Homo sapiens: one gene and its partner. The protein of the gene in region 1 purifies or fractionates together with the protein of each later gene. This does not show direct contact. Each region holds a gene or a part of one and is shown in the gene's direction. Other genes may lie near its edges.

Evidence for each region.
Region 2: the proteins of RASGRF2 (region 1) and RSL24D1 purify together in Homo sapiens (affinity purification with mass spectrometry; one large-scale study listed by BioGRID and IntAct). This does not show direct contact.

Annotation. Positions count from the first base shown.
Region 1 is NC_000005.10:81,222,074-81,226,158, forward strand, and holds part of RASGRF2 (ras-specific guanine nucleotide-releasing factor 2), read left to right. Parts: intron 1-3,604; coding exon 3,605-3,697; 3' UTR 3,698-4,085.
Region 2 is NC_000015.10:55,186,519-55,190,603, reverse strand, and holds part of RSL24D1 (probable ribosome biogenesis protein RLP24), read left to right. Parts: intron 1-4,085. UniProt on the Homo sapiens protein: Involved in the biogenesis of the 60S ribosomal subunit. Ensures the docking of GTPBP4/NOG1 to pre-60S particles.

The DNA of each region.
Region 1 (4,085 bases):
TAGTTCCTTTTTTTGGAGAATGGTTTCAGCAACCAAGATATGGGCTTTAGATATGCTTGCGTTATGGAGGTATCAGCTGACAGAGCATAGGAATCTATGTGTGTATAGATTTTATACACATCTATTTATAAATATATCTCTATGTAACCATCAGTATTTGTATTAAGCTAAATATACTGATGCCCCCAACTCTATTCTATTACCATGTGAATCATTCCAGCCCTCTCCCCACATTTGCTTATCTGTAAATTCCCTCTCCAACAGTGAGAGACACACTTTCTTTTAATAGCCCCTAGGTTTTGCCCTATTTCTGTCTGCCACAAGGCCTTTACCTATGTTCTTCCTTCTGTCTGGAGTGCCCTTTCTTCCTCATTGCACAGTTTACTTGTACACAGCTTAAGTATCACTTAGGAAGACTTTCCTAACTTTCCCAATCCCCACTCCACTCTTAAGGTTGTATTGCACCATGTAAGTCTCCTTTCTAGCACTTACTGCTGGAGTCACCATTTTACATTTATTTGTGTGATTATGTGCACATGCATGATATCCATGAAGTTCAGAGCTGGACCTACTGTGTTTATTGTCATAGCCCCAGCATCTTGCACAGTGCCTGGACCATAGTAGATAATAAATGTTTCTTGAATTAGTTAATTCAAGTCAGGAAAAAGACAAGGTTGTGACCATCACTGCTACTATTCAGATTTGAACAGGAAAAAATTCACCACGGCAATGAAGCAATAAAAAGCAAAAGGTATAAAAATTGGAAAGGTAAAGATTAAATACTATAATTCACAGACGATTTGATTTAGAAAATCCAAGAGAAAAATCTAAGAAAAACTGATAAATTACTAAAGGAGTATAGCAACTTGACATGCAAAAGCCAATTTTCAACACATTGGCAATAAGCAATTCAAATGTAATATAAAAAACCTCAATCAAAATAGCAACAAAATCTGTAATGACTAGGATTAAGTGGAACAGGAAATATGTAAGACCTTTATGTACTGAAGTACGTAAGGAGAAAGTTGTATCATATTCATGGATCAAAACACTTACTATTGTAAAGAGGTCCATTGTCCTCAAATTAATCTATAAATTCATTGAAATCCTGGTCAAAATCCCAACAGGTTTTTCATGGAACTTGACAAACTTATCTTGAAACTCTTAGGGAGGCATAGATAGGCAAAAAACAGACAAGAACTTTTTGGTAAATAAGAATAGTAAAGGAGAGTGTTCCCTACCAGTTATGGCCACATCCTAAAGTGAGAGTAAATAAGGCAGGACTCAGCCGGGCGCGGTGGCTCACGCCTGTAATCCCAGCACTTTGGGAGGCCGAGGCGGGCGGATCACAAGGTCAGGAGATCAAGACCATCCTGGCGAACACGGTGAAACCCTGTCTCTACTAAAAATACAAAAAATTAGCCGGGCGTGGTGGCTGGCGCCTATAGACCCAGCTACTTGGGAGGCTGAGACAGGAGGATGGCGTGAACCCGGGAGGCGGAGCTTGCAGTGAGCCAAGATTGCGCCACTGCACTCCAGCCTGGGCGACAGAGCGAGACTCCGTCTCAGAAAAAAAAAAAAAATTCAGGACTCTACTGGCACAGCAGTGCAAATCCAGTAGGGCAGAAGAAAGTCCATGTGTGTGTTTAGTCTACCTGAAAATCTAATACGAGATAAAGAAGGCACTCAAAGAAAGTGCCAGAAAGAAACTGACCATTCAATAAATAGAACAGGAATTTTGGCTCTCCATCTTACCATTCACAAAAATAAATTCCAGATGAGTTCATTACCTAAGTTTAAAAAGTATTTATATTATTTGAATAAAATAAAGGATAAAATATTCATGACCTTTGGATTTGAAAGACCTTCTTAAGCACAGAATGCAAAAGCTGTGAAAGCCAAGCTTGATAAAGTTAATGAAAATTAAGGACTTCTATATGACAGAGGACCATTATTTAAAAATCAAAATATAAGCAGTAGACAATGAGACAACATTTGCAACATATACAACAAAGAAACAGAATAAAAGTGTTTCCATAATCTATAAGAAAAGCATAAACAATTCAACTGGTAAACCTGTGAATAGTTAATTCATAGAAGAAAAAAAATGACCAATAAATATTTTTTAAATGCTCAACTTCACTAGTAAAAAGAGAAAATGTAAATTAGAGTGGGACATCGTTTTCACTTATCGGATTGACAAAAATTTAAAAGATTGATAATATCAAACATTGCTTAGGGTATAGGAAAACAGGTACTGTCATGTACTGTAGGTGCGGAAGCTTTGCAGGTCATTTTCCATCATCATTTAAAATTAAAAATTGGTATATTGAATTACTGGAACTCTTACCATTGTTGGTGAGAATAAAATCGAACAATCACTTTGCAAAACTGTGCCATTTAGAAGTTTCTTAAAATGTTAAATGAGCACTTATCTTAGGACCTAGCAATTTCTCTCTTAGGTGTTTATCCAAAGGGAAAATGAAAGCATGCTCATTAAAAGCCTTGTATAAAATGTTCATAACATTTCTAAATAATAGCCCCTATTTGGGAAGAGCTCAAGTGTCCATCAACAGATGAATGGATAAACAAATTATGGTATATCTCTACAATGGACTACTACTCAGCCATGAGAGGGAGCAGACTACTGGTACAGGCCACAGCAAGGCTGAATCTCAAAACACTATGCTGAGTGAAAGAAACCACACATGAAGGAGTACACACTGTATGATCCCATCGATATGAGGTTCCAAAATAGACAGAACTAATATGTGGTGATAGAAACCAGGGCAGTGCTTGATTCCAAGAGCAGATTGACCGAGTAGGTGCATGAAGGAACTTTTGGGGATGCTGAAATTGTTATCATGAAATGTATGTAAGTTACATGGTGTATACATGTCAAAACAGATCAAACTATCTATTTCACTTTTGTGTGTTATATTTCAATAAAACTAAAGAAATATTTTCATGAAAATCCCCCATGCCCCAACATATTCATTTCTAGTGTCAATTCCTTTCCTTTCACTTCTGATATCTACCCTAGCCTAGCAGAGTATTCACGCATGCACTCCAGGAAGCATGCTAACAAGGAATTCACTGAAACTTTGTGTAACAGTGAAGTATTGACAGCAACTCAACATCTATCAATATGAGATTATTAAATAAGCTCCAATATATTGCACTATTAATACTGTATAGCAGTTAGAGCTCTATCTACTGTCACAGGGAGCTCTCTCCAACCTATCATTAAGAGATGAAAGCAGAATAAAATGTGCACCATGGTGCCAATTTTAGGGGGAAAAATGATTTCTGTAAGTACATGTAATCTCTATAAAGACATAGAAAAACAACTGGGAGAAAACAAACCAATTAGTAACAGTAGTTCCTCTTGAGGGAGGTACCTGGGATTGGGGGTTGAGAGAGGACTAGAGATGTTCACCTTTTTTTTTTTTTTTTTAACAATGGAAACATATTTATGATTTTTTGGTCAAATAAGATTTTTAGTTGTTTAAGAGAAAATGTTGAATTGTGTTAGATTCCGTCAGAAAATGTACGCACTGGTGTCTGAAAGAGGTAAAAGCTGGGACTTCCCCTTTTTTTTCAGGTCGCACAGTACTTGCTTGACAAAGACCTTATCATAGATGAAGATACGCTATATGAGCTGTCACTAAAAATTGAACCTCGACTCCCTGCTTGAAGATCTGGCCTTGCCCCTGAGTCCACGGGATGTTCATGGAAAGCAGGACAGACAGAATTGTGTATGCCTTGCCTATCACGGTACAGCACGAAGCCAGGCTCCTTTCTCCACCAAAGAAGATGGAACCAGACTGGAATTCTGTCTCCAGAGAGAAACCCAGCTGTTTGGGTCAAAGACAGATGCTTCAGACTTGGGTGGGAAGGTGAAAGATGGCTATTTAGAAAGCTGGTGGCACGTTTTACATAAGGGAATGTCAGATGGGAGATGCTAGTTGCCATTTTAACAAAGCAGGTAAATCGGTAAATTTTAAACTCTGTCCATGTTCTGTTAGAACTCAGGGACAAGGATCCATGAAAAAGACCTGTGATGTTTCTCTGGCGCTTTACTG
Region 2 (4,085 bases), on another chromosome or scaffold:
AGTTTAGGATATAAACTTGTATTCTGTATACCTTATAAAATTCAGTGCTTCTTTAAAATTAAAAAGTGTAGTGCTTAAGGTCATCATTACAAATGTTCTGAGAGAATTTCTAAGTGTTTGACTTAGGTAAAAAATGAAGTTATAATCTTCTGAAATTAAAAGCAATAATATCTAGTTCTTGTTTTTTTTGTTTTGTTTTGTTTTGTTTTTTTTCCCTGAAATAGGCAGAAAGTTTAATGAAAAAAGTCTCATATGTAGAAAAAGTTAATCCCTTGAGCTAGCTTGTAGATTCTACCACATTTGTGTATGTTTGGGACCCTTGGCCTTGCCTTTTTTTTTTTTTTTTTTTTTTTTGAGTTGGAAAGTCTTGCTCTGTCCCACCGGCTGGAGTGCAGTGGCACGATCTCGGCTCACTGCAATCACTGCCTCCCAGGTTCAAGCAATTCTCCTGCCTCAGCCTCCCAGGTAGCTGGGATTACAGGCACATGCCACTACACCTGGCTAATTTTTGTATTTTTAGTAGAGATGGGGTTTTGCCATGTTGGCCAGGGTGGCCTTGAACTCCTGACCTCAAGTGATCCTCCCACCTTGGCCTCCCAAAGTGCTGGGATTACAGGCGTGAGCCACCATGCCTGGCACCGGCCCGGCCTTCTTTTCTTCCCATGGCTACCTTTATGCAGCCTGTAGCTATTTCTAGTATTGGGTGTGGGGGTGATGTGGTTTGTTAACCAGAGTCTGTAAGGCTTAGAATTCCACAAACTTTATTACTCTGCTAATGGATCATAGGCAGGGCATCCCTTTGTGTCCTCCAGTCAGTCACGAGACTTCAGGGGAAGAACTGAAAATTTGTGGACCTTTGTGGTAGTATTTATACCTTCTGAACCAGGGGCATCCAATCTTTGGCTTCCCTGGGCCACATTGGAAGAAGAATTGTCTTGGGGCACACAGAAAATACACTAACACTAATGATAGCTGATGAGCTAAGGGAAAAAAAAATTGCAAAAAAAATCTCTTTATGTTTTAAGAAAGTTTACGAATTTATATTGGGCCGTGGGTTGGTCAAGCTTGTTCTAAAGCTTTGTTTACCTAGGACCATGTGGAGAAACTGGAGTTTAGATTTGGAATTGCCTTTTCTGTACTTAGCCCTAATTATTGTACCCTTTGGGTCTCCCCCAACCCCTTTTTAAAAAATAAGGTCTTTTCCTTCTGCTTTATAATTAGAGGAGGAGTTAATTTCTGAAAAGCAGTTGATTTTTATTGGGTTTATTTGGTAAGGAAATAACACTTATTCAAACTCAAGGATTTCTAAAGAGATTAACTATAGGATTCTTAAATTGATTTCAAAAGGCACTCTTATCAAGGACATTATTGGAAAGTCCTGAAGCATTTCTTTTTTTTTTTTTTTTTTTTGAGATGGGAGTCTTGCTCTGTCACCCGGGCTGGAGTGTAGTGGTGGGATCTCGGCTCACTGCAATCTCCGCCTCCCGGGTTCAAGCAATTTTCCTGCCTCAGCCTCCCGAGTAGCTGGGACTACAGGCACACGCCGCCACGCCCGGCTAATTTTTTTGTATTTTAGTAGAGACGGGGTTTCACCATGTTGCCCAGGCTGGTGGTGAACTTCTGAGCTCAGGCAATCTGCCTGCCTTGGCCTCCCAAAGTGCTGGGATTACAGGCGTGAGCCTCCGCACTTGGCCAGTCCTGAGGCATTTCTGGACTTCATTCAGTTTTATTTCATTTTGACCTTTGTTGTTGTTATTATTACTTGAAGACAGCAGCTCCAGATCATTTTTACATATTTTGTAACTACTTTTACTTAGCGGGTATTTAGGTTGTTGTTGAAAAGAGTTGCATATACAATTTTAGCGATATGTGAATAATCAGTTCCATGGTCCTCCATGCTGGTGTCATGTTATTTACATTGCTCGAGAGAAATACTGCTGTGTTCTGTATGACTTCACATACTGTAATGGTAGTGTTCTCTACAGTTCTTAATTTATTTTAATTCAGTGCACATTTATTAAGCACTGCCTGTGGCATACAAAGATGAACACGTCACACACGGTCTCTGCCCTCTAGGTGCACTTACTGAGTACTCCTATTTTATTGTTTCTGTTAGGTTTTATTACAGAGTCTCATTCTCTTGCCCCCCACATTTATACATCTGTAAATTCTGTAAGAAGCAGTGCTCTATTGATTTCTTTTTTCCTGCACTGATTCTGCTTTCCTTTTTACTGGGATCCTAAAAATAGATTTTTCTGAGAAGATCTGCTAAGTGTACAGTATGAGTGCTAGGTAAATAGTATGAGAGTCTTTGGAATTTAAGATTGTTTCATGATATTTTATACAATTAAGAAAAGTTGTTTTCAGTAGTGTTCCAGAACAATATATTATTCTTCTAAGAGATTCATTGATTCTCCACACCCCTCGTATTTCAGTATCATTTGGTCTATAAACTAATCTATTGACAAGAGTTGTATATTCATTGCTTACATTATCAAATTGTGTGAGGATATGGATTAAACAACCTTTGTTAAGGTACTGATGTCTGTAGAAACAGTAGTATGTTAGAATTTCAAAAATACCGGGAAAAATAGTTTGCACTTTGTCCCTCATGGCTGTCTGTGTTGCAGGTGAATTGTTAATATCTGTCAGATTTTTTTTTATTTTTTATTTTAACTTTTTACATATTTTTGTTGAACTTTTTTTTAATCTTAATAGCTTTTGGGGTACAAGTGGTTTTTTTGGTTACATGGATTAATTGTAGATTGTCAGAATCTGAGATTTTAGTGCATCCATCACCTGAGTAGTGTACATTGTACCCAATCTATAGTTTTTACCCCTTACCCCACCCCACTCCCCCTTCTGAGTCCCATAGTCCATTATACCACTCTGTATGCCTTTGCGTGCCCATAGCTTAGCCCCTGCTTACAAGTGAGAACATACAGTGTTAGCTTTTCTATTCCTGGGTTACTTCATTTAGAATAGTGGCCTCCAGTTCCATCCAAGTTGCTGTAAAAGACATTATTTCATTCCTTTTTTTGGGTGAGAACTATTCCATCATGTATAAATACCACATTTTCTTTACCCACTTGTTGGTCGATGGGCACTTAGGTTGGTTCCATATCTTTGCAGTTGTGAATTGTACAGTTAGATGCTTCTTAGGTTCAAAATATTTCAGTATTCTGGAATATTTGGAAATACAGCATATTATTCTTTGGAAGGGATTTTCCTGCCACTTGTGTTTATTTCCCTTCTAAATAAGTTTAAAGTGTGGAAATGCTTTTGAGTACTAGAACTTGTACTTATTTTTGCTGAAAGACAAAGAAAAAAAGTTATATATCCAGCATATTATTAATTCTGAGCTACAGCATATGCAGATTTATAGTTGACATTTTCTTAGAGTTATTTATACAAACATTGCTTTAATACTAGAGGTCTCAAAGATTGTCCTGGTGGTTTTTGTTAAAATGTAGATTCAGATATAGTAGGTTTGTGTGGGGCCTGAAATCCTTCATTTCTAACAAGCTCCCAAATGATGCCACTGTTACTGGTCCCAGGCTACATTTTAAAAGTTTTTATTTTGACCTAATTTCAGATTACAGAAAAGTTGCACGAGTAGAGTTCTCTGATATCCTTCATCCAGACTCCCTGAATGTTAACATTTTGTTAAATTAATTTTTTCTCTTTGTCTCTCTTCTTTCTCCCTTTCTCCCTTTAGTGTATATTTTTCTGAACTGTTTAAGCATGCAAAATACTTCTTGGTCCCTAGTTTAATATGTATTTCCAGAAATAAGAGCATTCTCACATAACCACACTGCAATTATTAAAATCAAGAAATTAACATTGATAGACTATTATTACCTAATCTTAGTCCTATTCATATTTCTCCAATTGTCCCAGTAATATCCTTTATAGCAAAATTTGTAAGAATAGTACATGTCATGTCTCTTTAATCTCTTGTAATCTGGAACATTTCCTGAGTTTGTCCTTATATTTCATGATATTGACAGTTTAGAACAATATGGGCCAGGCGTTTGGTATAAAATTTCTTAACTGGATTGTTTGGTGTTTCCTTCAGATTAGGT